2 linked regions of the Homo sapiens genome follow. Each later gene encodes a partner of the first gene's protein in a complex. Each region holds a gene or a part of one and is shown on either strand. Other genes may lie near its edges. A codon is read from its position in the direction of its gene.

Region 1 (7,293 bases):
AGTGAACACAATAAGAGAGAGAGAAGTGGGGAGGGAGAGTAGATTTTGATTCAGGATGCTGACATACCGTGTGAATCACAAACACCAATTCTCTCCCTCCTGCTGCTCTCTGAGTCTGCCCTTTGTTCCTAGGGACCAGTGGGCAAGAGACCCTGCCACATAATAACTGCTCAGTAAACCGCTGTCAAGTTAAATCAAATCGTCCAGGAATAGGACAGGGACCAAATGGCAGTTCAAGCCAATGCATCAACAAATTGCCTCGGTGCATATGTCTGCGGCTTGTGGCCAGCCGCTCTGGCCAGTGGGATGACCTGGATGGACTCGGAGGAGCCCCCTGAGCCAAGCCATGTGCCTCATGGACCTAGGCCATCGTCCTCCTGCCAGGAGCATCAGTCTGGATCCAGGCTGGGAGGGACTGATGAGGCTGCGCTTCACAGCACTAACAGACCCCACTCCATTTCGAGGGTCTGATCCTGGGGCTTACCTGGGTGTCTCCAGCCGATGTTCACTGCCTACCACAGTGGCCAGCTCTGTCTCAGTGAAACAGGTTTATCACTTTGTCAGACCCAGCAAGATTAGCCAACATTCATGGGCTGAGATGAGTGAATACAGTGAGAGAAATCAGCTGTGTAACCACACTTTGTCAGGCATGCATTGAAATCGAACCAGTAACTATTGATCTCTCTTACAATGATGGAAGAGATCTAATAAATACGACAATTGTGCAGGAATGACCCAAGGAGGTGGGTAGTGGGAGGTGGATTTAGGGAGTATCGATCAAAAAGAGACTTCATGATCCTGATGCAGCAGATGAAATAAAAAGTCTTCTGCTGGGATGGGGAGGGGAAAGGAGCACCAGCCCCTCAAATGAAAATATTAGACATTAGATCATATCTCCTGGACATAGCACACAGCATGATGGAGTGGGATGATCAGCGATATGATAATCGATGGAGAGAAAGGTCCAACCTCACCACTTCGGAACAGTGAAAATCTGAGCAGTCATGCCAGTATTTATTGAGCACCTACTGAATGCCAGGCATTTTGCTATATCCCATTGGAGACTTGCAATAACCTTAGGAGGTGAATATTATTATTATTCTCATCATACAGGTAAAGAAAGTATGACTCAGAGAGGGACTTCTACTGTTCCAAAGTCACACAGTAAGTGAGTGGTAGGATCTGGGATTTCAGCCCAGCACTGTTTCAGGTGTTGTGAGACACACGTGTAGATGACAGATGGAAAATTCCTGCCTCCCAGGAGTTACTTCAAGAAACCTTAACTCCTTCCACGTGTTTTAAGATCGCAAATCTCTCAAATAGCCCCAGAGCTGATCCCTTTGCCTGCTCCCTTAAAATGTGCTGCCTTCCGCCACATAGCCTTGGGAACCAGTGTGACATCCCCCTCCCAGCTGCCAACAGAGGCATAGGGTTTGCCTGCCACCTATCACACCTCTAGCTCAGCTGGGGCAAAGCAGTGGGCTTGAGATCCCGTCAGTGAACGCAAACCACCCCCAGGCAGCATAACTCACCGGCTTGGGCTGCTGCAACAGCTCCCCCCACGCAGATCTCAAAGCCTGAAGATAAATGACCTGCAAAAATAGAACAAAGGCAAGGTGTGGTGGGACTGGGGGGAGAAGAGGAGGGGAAAAGAGAAGGAAGGTGCCACAGAGGGGTGGGAGTGAGGCCTGGGGTGAGAAAGAACAGAAGAGGATCGACATTCTGCAATGCTTTGCAATGGATCTCGACTGGGATGCCTGTCAAATTAGAAAGGCAAGCCTTGTATATTTCAGCAACCCTTGGAAGAAAGATGATAATGAAGACTTTCAGTCTGTGGGAGGGGAATTGAAATCAGATCCAATAATCGAAAGAGCTTGTTTCCCCTGGGAAGACTGGAGACTTAATTAAGTAATGTTTGTAGAGCTTGGAGGGATTCTTGATACCCAGGAAAAAGTAAGCAGTTGCAGAATTTACTCTTCAACCTTGGAGTAGTCAGCAGGCTTTTTTTTTTTTTTTTTTTTTCCTGAAACTCATCAGCTTTTTGCTAGAATCAAACTTTGAGACTTGGTACTTTTCTGAATATGGGTCTCTGGACCAGTGAGCAAATGGCTTTCCCTTTGAGCCTCCTCCTGGCCTTAGACTCCTCTGGCTGTAGTTAATAGGAGAGCAACAAGTCCTTTCCAAGTAAAATGGACAAGAAAATGCCTGCTAAGCCTGGGCCTCCTGGCTTGTTGTCACTCCCTTTTCCCATTCCCTTCCAACAAAACATCCCCAAACTTCAACCTGTATCAAATTCCATCAAAAGAAGCCGCTCAAACCAGCACCCTGTCAGCAATTAAACACAATCCGAAAAGAATGAAAAGGCCGAACCTGGCCGTACATTGATGTACATGTTATGTGATAAATGCCAGAGCCTTGGATCTCATTAATGTCCTCAAGCCATTGTTCTCTAAGTCCAGTGAGACTCATTGACCTTTAAAATCACCCTGATTAGTGAAACCTCTCACTTCTCCCATCCAGGGTGTCCCATTTTCCCCAGACCCTGGGAATGGCATGGGAACTGCTGTGTGGGAGACTGCAAGAAGGAGACCCTGGAGCTAAAGCCAAAGGGTGGTCCTCTTGGGAGAGAGCTTACCACCTGTTTAAGCCAGGACTGTGCAGAAAGGGAGAGTCCAAAGAGCAGTCTCTCACTGGTCTGGCTTTTGTGAACTAGCCTCCTAACTGTAACCACCTTTGCTAGATAATCAGACCCAAACCTAAAATCCCCAGCCCGAGCTCCCACCATCTCTAGGTCCAGAGGACCAGGAATAAGCAAATAAAACCAAGCGATAGAATTCCAGTGCCCCCTCTGGATGTTACCTGCACTCTGCTTTGTCCCTGGGCAGCTTCTGGCCGAGCAGGTCGGAGGTGGCAGTGGCTGGTCCAAGGCTCAGGGGCCTCCTTGACTCCGGCTTGGGAGGAGGTGCCAAAGAGGCAGCTGTGAACACCACCAAAGCCCCTTCAAATGGCAGTTCTGGTGCCTCTTCCCCCCTTTTATGGACGAGAGCCTCCCCTGTCGCTCAGCCCTTGCTGAGCACAGGCTGCTGGGAGCCAATGGGGAAGTGGCTGAGAGCAGTCAGAGCACAGACCCCCAGGCCCTTCAACTCGAACTCCCTGGGCCTGACACAATAGGCTTCTCTTCGTGACAGGGATGTGGAGGAGGAAGGCAGCCGTGTTGGGGAGGGGGCGGATTCTGGGTGTAGTGCTGTTTGTCACTTGAAATCCGGCCACTTCAGTTTTTGATGCGTTTCCAGGAGAGTGTCACAGGAAAAAGAAGACAGGGAAGGACAGAGACAGAAGAGTTAGAGAAAGAGAGAGAGAGAGAGAGACTCAGAGAGAATCGGAAATCGAGAAAGAGGCAATGTCGGACCTAGGGAGTGATACAAAGGAGGGGAGAAAGAGAAAGAAAAACAGAGACAGAGAGTGGCAGAGATAGGGAGATGGGTAGAAACACAAGGAGAGAGGGACAGAGCAAGAAAAAAGGAAACCAGCCAGGTAGACTGTCAGACTCAAAACACACTGATCCACAGACAGACAGACGTGGAGACAGACAGAGGCTGAGACAGTCTTCTGATCACGGAAGAGAGTCGGAAGATGACAGCCGAGTCAGCAGGCACGTGCATGGCCCGCTGTTGCGTGCCGTGGCAACTCTGTGTTGGCTGGTGCACGCGTGTGCTGGAATCTTTTTGTGTGTACATTTGCCTGCAAACGGCATTCGGCTCTGGTACATGCCTGAGCTGGTGCCAGGCACACTAGCCCTGGCAGAAGCACAGCTCTTCCCCGACAGCCAGGAGCTGCAGTTTAGTTTTCTCTGGCGGCAACACAAAATGAATAGCAGGAAAAACCCCTCAAAATATGGGCTGCAATATGCCTCAGCACACACTCTGGGTGAGGGATGGACCCACCTCAATATACCCTTGGCCTGGACCAGCAGCAGCTTGAAGGTGGCACTCTTCATTGCTACAGAGATCTTCCAGAACATAAGGGTCTTTGAGTTTGGAAGAGAACATGCTTCTCTTCTCAGTCAATAGCAGACAGTTTGTGGTGGGAGGCACAACTATTTCAGAAGTCTGGCAGGGCCGCCCATTTTGTGGGCACCTGGCTGCACCAGGCGGTTAGGTAGAGTTGTCAGATTTAATCCTCATGACCTAGCCAGTTGGTTAATATTATCCCCATCTTGCAGATGAGAAAACAGAGGTTTGAGAGCTGAGAAACTTTCCTAGAGACACACAGCAAGTAAGTCATCCAGCTAGAACCTAAAGTCAGGTCCATCTATCCTCCAAGTTCCTAGAGACACACAGCAAGTAAGTCATCCAGCTAGAACCTAAAGTCAGGTCCATCTACCCTCCAAGTTCCTAGAGACACACAGCAAGTAAGTCATCCAGCTAGAACCTAAAGTCAGGTCCATCTACCCTCCAAGTTTCTGCCCCCTCCCTTGCCTCTCCCCAGGCTTGAATCTGCCCACACTGAGGGGTGGGGTCAGTTTTCTTCTCTGGGACTCAGCCTCTCCATACACAGGCTGTGCTTAATGACATTTAAGATGTGAGTTTGACTCTCAGGTCTGCCACTCACCATCGGAGAGACCTTGGATAAGCTGCCAACTTCAACCTCTGATTGCTCATCTGTACAGTGGGGACAACAGTATCATGGGGCTCTTGGGCTCTTGTGAGGGTGAAAGGAGGATGTGTCAATAGCACTTAAAGCAGCCAGTACGGAGCGGATGTTCTGCTCCCATCATTCCTGATAAACCACATCCCTCCAGCTTTGATGCAGCAGGTTCTCCTGGGCATCCTCCTCTCCCTGCACCTGGCTCGTTAAACTCTCACATAAGGAGGAGGGTAGAAGGGGCTGTTTGCTGAACACCTATTATGCCTCAGACATTTCCACATTCCATCACATCCTCACAACAAGAAAACCTGTGGTGTGGATCTCACAATGCGTCCTCAGATGGAGAAGGCAGCAGAAGTTCAGAGAGGCCCCAGCCACCCAGGGAGGGAGGAAGAACCGAGACCCATCCCTCAGATCCTGAAGCTGCAGCCCCACCACACTCCCCTCTGGACCCACAGCCTCACTTTCCTTCTCCTCCCTGTCTCCTCTTCCCGAGGCAGCACAAGGGGTCTGACTGGCGGGTGCAAGCGACTCCTGGTGCCCTATGTGGAAGCCCCTGCCCAGTTGGTGATAGCCAGTGCGCAGGGTCACCAAGCACTTGGCCACATCTCAGGCTGGCTTCTTGCATGGTGGCCAGAGGACATGAGTGGAGTCTATTCATTGCCACCCTGGGAATCTGGGAGCCCAGGAGTGAGCGTCTACTTCATCCCCAAGGCCAAAGCCTCACTCCAACTGCTCTCTTTCCTCATTTTTCATTTCCTCCTTCTCCTCCTAACCTCTGCCTCTATAAGCTCTTGGTAATAACCTTCGAATACACAGAGACTCTTAGAGAGGGAGTACAATGGCTCCCGTGGCTGGAAGTCAGCAAGCACTGGAAGAGCAGAGGACAGGGGCCTCTCCTGACTGTTATTCACCAGAGGGAAGTTGGGGCAGTGAGAGTAGAGACACTCATGGATAATCCTCATTAAGCCATTGATGTCTGATATCCTTCACCCCCTGAGTCTACTGTTGCCTCAAGAGCAAATAGTTCCTGCATTTGCCTTTCCTCTCCTTCCGCAGCCTCCTTTACACACACACACACACACACACACACACACACACACATAGAAGGCCAGGAGCAGCCTTCCCCCTTAGTCCTGGAGAACCTTGCCATAAAGCTCACCCTCTCCTGGGCTCAGTGATGCACCAATCATGGTGCTGGCCCTGTGGGCAGCAGTCCCGGGGGTGGGTACCATGGCTCAGCCAGGCTCACTTCAGCTTAGATCCCGACGCCACTGCTTCCTCACTGTGTGACAACTGATGGATACTTCGCCTCTCTGAGCACCTGAGTCATTCTGAAGACAGGAGGATGCTGCTAGCTTTTATACAGATGTCAGGGCTCATTCCAAAGCTCTAGAATGCTCCCTTCCCTGCACACCCTCCGTGCATGACCAGTTTCTACTGCAGATCTCGAGGTGGGCAAAAGGCAAAGAGTAAAGAAAAGGAAAGATTTAAAACAACCAGTCCTCAAATCACTCCATTAGGTAGGATTCAGGAAGCACAGGCTGGAAGACAGAAAAGTTAAGAAACAAAGCCAGCATTTCTGAAGGGCTGTCTACTACCAGGCCCCATTGTAAACCCTTGACACAAATCAACACCTGATTCTCCCCACCATTCTGCCATTAGATGCAATTCCTGCCCCCACCTTACAGAGAAGGAAACAGAGGCTGGGAGAAGTTAAGTCACTCGCACAAAGGCACACAGGTAGAAAGTGGCAGAGCACAGCCTGATCCCAGGCAATCCGACTCCAGGCATGTGCCCCAGCCATGAGCTGCGCTGCGCCTGGGCTTCTCCTCCCTGTTCTGCTTCATGCTCCGAGCTCTGTGTGCGTTCTCTACTCACCTGTCAGCCTGGAAAAGTGGCAGCAGGCAACATGGATCACTCAGGAGGACCTCAGTGGGATGAAGTTCCGGTCCTGTGGTCAGCATCAAGTCTCCCAAATCACTTTTCATGCTGCCGTGTGTCCAGCGTGGATGTCCACACCGGGGCTGGGTGGGCAAGCGCGTGAGAGACTCCCACTGCCCCAGCCGTCGTGTTTGTGCCTCGCTGCTGCAAGAGGGAGTGAGGAGCTGTGCTCATCATCTCTCTCTCTCTCTTTCTCTTCTTCTTCCTCTTCCTCTTCCTTTTCTTCCACATATCTGTATTGAAACATCCCAATGTGCCATTCTCAGTGCTGAGCCCTTAGGGCTTAACATGCCACACACAACTTTGCCCTCTTTGTCCTCACAATCCAGGTTGAGGGGCAGGTATAGGAACAGCCACTCACAGCAGTACGGCAAGTAGGGGCTAGGAGACCTGGAATACTGTGGGAACAGAAAAGGGGCTCCCAACCAGCCTGCTGAAGAGTTGGGAGAAGGCTTCCTGGAGAAAGTGAGCGTGAAGCTGAAGACTGAGGCACAGGTGGGAGTTTTCCAGGCAGAGGGCAAGAAAGGGCATGTCAGGCAGAGGGAACAGCTTAGGCAAAGGCCTACAAGCAAGAAGAGTTGAGTGGGATGGTGGGGGAGTTGCTCTTGACTCCCCTCTTTCTCTTGCCCTGACACCTCCTCTTCACTGCTTCTGACTCTATCGCCTGGGCCCCCGGTCGCTGTCACTTCTCTCCTAGATGGC
Region 2 (7,023 bases), on another chromosome or scaffold:
TCTGCCATATGTCATCTGTGTTAGGTGCCATGATAATCTGGAGTAGAGGCAAACATGGTCAGAGTAACATTCTGAAGCCATGTGTAAAACCTTCAATGCAAGGTTTTGTTTCCAAAAGGTGAGAGTACATACACCACCGAGAACTTGCATGGTGAACAGAACTTAACAGTTGTAATGATGTCTGTAGTTACATAGGGCTATATATTCAATTTTTCTATTAAATTCCAGAGGATGCAGCCCTAGTAATATATAGGCTTGGAGTGTTATTTCTAAATTATCCCTTTTTTCTTCTCAGGCAAATTACAGAAAAAGCCATTACCTCTGAAATGGTAAGTTTCAGGGGGAAAAAGAGGGAATTTATATGTCATCTGGAAGTTTTAGCAAAATTACCCTAAATGTGCTGCTCCTGGCATTATCCTCAGCAGGTATGCCCTTCACAGAATGCCATGCAGGATGTGTCCTGGCACCAGGAGGGACATCATGTCCTCATTCAGCACACATTTAGGAACAATTCTACTTCCTGCTGAGAGCCACAAAATAGTACCTTGAGATCTACAGAAGCAAAACACCTTCCTCTCCGTGAATAGAGAGATCTGCGAATCGCTATATGTTCATAAAGAGATGTGGCAAATAAACTAGATCCTGCGAAGGCTACAACCTGGGAGCTAGTTAAAGCCTTTGTGATTCATTAGCACATGAGTTGTGAGCACTGTTACGGGACTAAATGGTATTCAGGGAGTCTGAAAGAGATCATGCCATGACTAATTCCCAGCAAAATGTCTCAGCATCAACTTAGCAACTCAGGGGATATCATTAGTGTGCCCTCAGGAAATTGCCTGGCTGGGAGGCAAGCCTATTCCTTATTCACACAGGTACTATTATTTACAGAAGATACTATATATATATTTTCAGTGGTATTCACACCACTTTATGTTTCTTGACAATGGGACATGCTTTATTATAAGACTGTTTACCTGAATAGCATGCTAAGAAAAAAAACTGTAGTTTTTGGGAAATTAAACCATGTTAAAAACAATCTTTTGAACGTTTAAATAATTTCATAAATAGCAAGATAATGTTCTGGTATAAGTGAACATCAGATTCCTCAGATGTGGGTCCAAGCCATATGTAAGCTGTAATTCTTACCACACAGCCACATGAAATGCATGTCCACACAGCATACAGTGAGCTGGGCATGAACCCTGGAAATAGTTCCCATTCCGTTGGAGGTTGTTGCTGTCATTGTGAAACATCTGGATTGGATGCCCATTGAGCTCTGAAAGCAATGTTTTTTCTTTTCCTTTTTTCTTAAACCGAGCTTTTGAAACTACGTTTCATAGGAAGGCCACAGCAGATGGGTGCTGAACCTTACCTAGCAAACCAGAAGGAAAAGACCTGTTCCCTTGTTCATCAGAGGAACTGAGGCTCTGCCTCGCTTCTGTGCCCTAGAGAAGAGGTGCATGTGTTGCGTGGACCTTTTGTCCTTGATGTTTCCACTGATCACGAACGTGGTCTGCATCTGATGACTTCAGACCATGAGATCTCTAAAAGTTTATTTTAAATTCTATCTTTTCATGTCAGACTGCAGTAGTGATCTGAGTTAAACCTAGATCATTGAACTCCTCTCTTCCCGAAGAACTGTACGAAGACATCTCCACGACTAGTCATACTGGTTTATTCATCCCATCGATGTCCCTCAGGTAAGCAGGATCCTGAACTGTATTTCGGACTCTGCTAGTGCTCTGCCGCTCCATCCTCATCTTCAGTGGAAAGCAGAAGTCCCGGAAACACCGCTTGAAGTTTTCATCAAGAAAGGCGTAGAGAATGGGATTCAGGCTACTGTTGGTATAGCCTAAGGCGATGCAGAAGTAATAGCTGGAGAGAGCAGCTGTGCTGTGGGAGGTGCTCCCCAGAGCCTCCACCAGGATGAATATGTGAATGGGAGTCCAGCAGACGACGAAGACTGCCACCACCACCAGGACCAGTCTGGTGATCCTACGCAGGTTGCGATCTTTCTCTCGGGAGCCAGAAAGGAGCCGGACGCTCTTGAGACGCAGGATCATCAGGGTGTAGCAGACGATGATGATGAGGACAGGGATCACGAAGGCAAAGATGAAGACGCAGATCTTCATGAAGAGGTCCCACCAGGAGTAGTCATCATCTGGGAACTGCAAGGAGCACTCAATGACATCGACGTCTGGAGGAGGGCAATAAAAACCACAACACAGAAACCTGTTATTGTTATTACCGTGGCTGCAAAGTGTTTTAAATATGAATTTTAATACCTTTTATTGCAATGGTCCAATTATGGTAAGATGACATTACCTGAAGTAGATCACCAAATTACTAATGAATACTGTATTTTGTTAGCCATCCTAATCTTTGTGCATGGAACAATGATGATAGTCACTGTTTACTGGTAACATACACAATACTGTAGAATTAAGATTAGCTGACAATCTTGCTCATCTAGTTGCAGAAGTTGGTTTGACACTGATGGCTTGCAGAAGAGGTAAAGAGTTAATGTATACCATGAGTACTTATTTCTATTTCCATTCATTAACACTTCTCCCAGACCTAAGGCTCTGGCAATAAAAAAGCTAATGTCTATTTGTAATAAATGACTAAATATTTCAAATCTAGCCACTGAATTTAACAAAAGCCAACTTGTTTGAAAAACATTAACTGGTTTACAGGAAATCATTATGTGGGTCAACAAAAATTGATATGGAATTTGTTTAAATATGACTCAAGTATTGTCATTTAATGGAACCAATGACACTCATTGTGATTAAGGGCATTACTGAAACACAAGTAAAACCTTTGGAGGAGGTGGGGGAGAATCATCAACATCATCAAGGGAATTCTGAGTAAATCAGGCACATTTATTTTCATTTTTACCAACATTATTATGTAGCTCAGATAAAACAAATATTTGTATGTGATTACTTAGAAAATTGCTATATTTGCTCTGCTTCTCTTTGCTGGGTAGTATTCTCTTTGGAGTAGCCTTAATATTAGGAAGACCAGGGACTCAGGATGGACACCTTCTAAACTATTTTTGTGGGTGTCCCATGGGCTCACCTTTCCCCAAACACCAGCTAGCCCACATTTCCAACCCCTGCCCCTGAGAAGTCAGCGAGCACACAGCAGAGCTCTCTTTGCCCTGGTCCTTCCTCACAGACAAGGTAGTCATGAGCAACACCATGAGCGTGATTACAGTAATGAAAATATTTTTTTCTGACACTGGAAAAATCTGCTTCAAAAATAGCACATGAATATTTTTTTAAATAGCAAAACAGCTCTATTAATGTTTTCTAAAACATTTTAATGCAATCTTAATAGAATATCCAATCTTACTAGAATTTTAATTACATATACTTTAAAATAAAAAGGATATAAACATTTTTGACAATTAATAAAGACTATCTTAGAGACCTTCATGTATCAATGAAATACCAGATGAAACCTTGGAGTAGTAAATGAACACTTCCAGAGAAATTTGTCATTTTTGATTTTTTAAAAAAGTCATTGTCCAAAGTAATATTACTATGAAGACTATTAACTTTTGCTTTAGTGTTTATGGTAAATGATTTTTAAATCATTACTATTATAATAGAATATAAGATATCCATTAAGCAACTTTTGATGGGTGACACATGAAAAAAAAATCTGAGTTCAATATAAATATTCTATTCTGGGTTTTGACTTGTTTGTTGAATCTGGTAGAAGAGTTTCCTTGGAGGTAGGGACCATGGTTTGGTTTGTTTTTTTCTGCTTAGCTTTTATTTTCAGCATTAGTTGTTTCCTGTGGCTGACCTCAGCTTATATGTCACTTCAGAGACGTTTAGATGGAGGTCTGTCTCTTAAATTGTCCTCTCCTCGGTAACTTACACTTTGTCTACATGTTATATTCACCCAATTTCCCAGACAGAAGCCTGTCTGATCTGTAATTGTGTGTTACCTTCCTAACATTTTTCTCTCCATCCAGAATGTGAACTGCCTTAGTGGAGAAACCCAGCCTGCCTTAATCAACACTGAATCCCTGGCACCTAGGGTAGTACCTGGAACATGTGGTGCATAAACAGAATAAATTGTTAAATAAATGAACAAACAAATACATACCACATGAATAACAAACCCTCGAAAGTGTGTCCTAATTACAGTAGTTATTATGGAAAAGTCACCGGCTAAGCTAAGCTAAGCAGAAGCCGCACAGGGCTGCTGTTTAATTCGGATAGACCTTTAACTCCGAGGCTCAGCTTCCTCCCAAACAAACTGCCTTGCATGTGGTGGGAGATGGTAAGTATTAGATGACTGGGTGAAATAATTAACAACAGCTACTTTACAAGACTTTGGGAAACAAACGTCCCACTACAGAGTTGGAAATATCCTCCAGAAATGTCAATGAAGCTGAATTTGTAGCGTAAAGAGAGTGCTGAGGCAATCATCAAGAATCCCAGTGCACTTCACATTATGCTAAGGGGATCAAGCCAGGCACAGAAAGACAAATATCACATGTCCTCAAGCATCATATTTGGGAGGTTAAAAAAAAAAACCTGAACTTACAGAGATAGAGAGTAGAACCTCTAGAGGTGACCAGAGGCTGGGAAGGGTTGTGGGGAGGGGGATATACAGGGGTTGGTTAATGCATACGAAATACGCTTAGAAGAAAAAGGATCATGTTCAGTAGCACAAGAAGGTGACTACAGTTAACAATAATTTATTATATATTTCAAAATAACTAAAAGAGTGAAATTGGAATGTTCCTAACACAAACAAATGAGAAATACTTGAGGTGATGAATATCCCAATTACCCTAATTTGATCATTACACATTGTATGCTTGTATCAAAATAGCACTGGTACCCCCTAAATATGTACATCTATTATGAATTCATAAAAACTAAGCATTTTTTAAAAAAGAAATTCCTGTCCAAGCATGCCATTTTTATTAAATGTTCTGTTTCAGGAAGAAGGGGGCATTTTCAGGTTGAAGTATCCATACAACTGCCTCAGTTTAACAAGCAGATTTTGGTTTCTTTATATATTAATATCAGAGGGCTGTGGCTTCTGCTGGCTCCTGTTCCAGCATCTCATGGTTGTCATAATTATAGAGTTAGTTCTAATAGCTAAACTAAAGCTTTTCTTGTGTGTATTCATTTTGTTAAGAATAATTGTTTCTGCTTATAGCGATTATAATAATTCTTAGCTACTATAAAAAAGTAAGAGCAGACTATGAATCCTCACATAATACACACACATATACTACAGTATGGAAAATATTAGAGTCAACATTTTACGTTCACAAAGTGAAAGCTTTGCCTCAGAAAAGTTTCTTGCACTTTATTTCTATTTGCTGTAGGCATGAAGAAACAAAATCCTATGTGTGATTAATCATATTTTGAAATGCAAATATGATAAAGTTGGGCATTTCTTAAAATTTACCTAGTAGTATAGCTTGACACCTGCTATGGCTATGCTAGAAATTCATTTTGTAGTTTCAGAGGGAAAAGATCAGCTTCATTAAAAAACAATGAATAAAGTCATTATACATTTGTTCAAATCCACAGGACACATAACCCGGAGAGTGAGCCCTCCTGTAAACTCCAGGCTCTGAGTGATAACGACGTGTCAGTGTGGGTTCAGCAGCTGTAATAAATGGACCACTCTGTAGGGGAGGATGTGCCTGTGTGGGGTAAATGGAGGTAAATGGAAGTGCCTCTCTGTGCTTTCTGGTCAGTTTTGCTGTGAACCTAAAACTGTAAACTGAAACCTAACTAGATTAAGTCTAAAAACAAACAAACCATGTATCATGCAAGACAAGCTATGATTTTAGTGCCTTGCCCTTTCACTATGACCTGGAAAATCCTCACTATATACACTCAGTTATCTGCTCTCACAGGTATTATGAACCCCCTAGTAAACTGGAGCATTTATATACCTGCTGGAGCATTAAACAGCATGAGTAGGCCCAGAGTGACTATTCTGCTCACCTCCCCATCATTAATTTCTATGAGGAACAAAGATGCTTTCTATAGCTTTATATTTTGCTAGTAAAGCAAAACTCCTAGAACAGTACCTCTCACCTTGGCTGCAGGTCAGAGTCACCTGGAGAGAGCTCAAAAATCTTGACACCCAGGCTGTACCCCAGGTCAATTACACCAGACCCTTAAGGGGTGGGATGCAGGCAGCAGTGTTTTCTAAAGTACCCAGGTGATTCCAATGTGCAGCCCAGAGTGAGAACTACTGTCCTAGAAATACAGGAAAAACATCAACAGGGGGCCGGGCGCAGTGGCTCACGCCTGTAATCCCAGCACTTTGGGAGGCCGAGGCGGGCAGATCACGAGGTCAAGAGATTGAGACCACCCTGGCCAACACGGTGAAACCCTGTCTCTACTAAAAATACAAAAATTAGCTGGGCATGGTGGTGTGTGCCAGTAGTCCCAGCTACTCGAGAGGCTGAGGTTGAACCCGGGAGGCAGAGGTTGCAGTGAGCCGATATCGCGCCACTGCACTCTAGCCTGGCAACAGAGCAAGACTCTCTCTCAAAAAAAAAAAAAAAAAAAAATCAGTTGGCTGGTTTGCATGGGGTAAAACCTGATATGTCCAAAATCAAGTGGTTCTGCTCATCTGTAACTACCATCCGTTAACTTGATTTTGAATGGCCTACAGCCAAAGCTGTTAAAATAGTGATTTGGAGGTTATCCTTTAGGAATAAAAGAGGAAAGAACCAGCATATGTCACCAATAATTTATATCCCTTGTTAAAGAGAAAAAAAGGAGTGAGAAGGTGTGTCCTGGACTTGCCAGGTTGTACTTTAAAATTCCACATGCCTGTGGTTTCTTACCTCATCCTCACCCCTCCACTTTCTACTAAACATTGCCAGAATGGGAGACAGGTCGGGCATCTCTCTTCTGGCAATGTCATTATTGCATTCTGTGTTTAGAGGTGGAAAGGGACACAAAATTGTTCTACTTCTCATCTTCCATGGATTTAGGCACTACATTTCCGTCGTCTTTT

What was found.
Region 2: the proteins of PDYN (region 1) and OPRK1 are in contact, whole or in part, in a cryo-EM structure (PDB 8F7W), measured with the Homo sapiens proteins. Residues at the interface, in NP_001177821.1 of Homo sapiens: Tyr207, Gly208, Gly209, Phe210, Leu211, Arg212, Arg213, Ile214; in NP_000903.2 of Homo sapiens: Thr111, Gln115, Trp124, Val134, Ile135, Asp138, Tyr139, Met142, Lys200, Glu209 (codon at 2,183), Cys210 (codon at 2,180), Asp216 (codon at 2,162), Tyr219 (codon at 2,153), Lys227 (codon at 2,129), Val230 (codon at 2,120), Phe293 (codon at 1,931), Ile294 (codon at 1,928), Glu297 (codon at 1,919), His304 (codon at 1,898), Ala308 (codon at 1,886), Leu309 (codon at 1,883), Tyr312 (codon at 1,874), Tyr313 (codon at 1,871), Ile316 (codon at 1,862), Tyr320 (codon at 1,850).

What each region holds. Positions count from the first base shown.
Region 1 is NC_000020.11:1,991,052-1,998,344, forward strand, and holds the start of PDYN (proenkephalin-B preproprotein), read right to left. Parts: upstream 3,008-7,293; 5' UTR 2,860-3,007; intron 2,698-2,859; exon of another isoform or gene 2,636-2,697; intron 1,756-2,635; exon of another isoform or gene 1,593-1,755; 5' UTR 1,533-1,592; intron 1-1,532.
Region 2 is NC_000008.11:53,227,633-53,234,655, forward strand, and holds part of OPRK1 (kappa-type opioid receptor), read right to left. Parts: intron 2,622-7,023; exon of another isoform or gene 2,198-2,621; coding exon 1,665-2,197; coding exon of another isoform or gene 1,578-1,664; 3' UTR 1-1,577. UniProt on the Homo sapiens protein: G-protein coupled opioid receptor that functions as a receptor for endogenous alpha-neoendorphins and dynorphins, but has low affinity for beta-endorphins.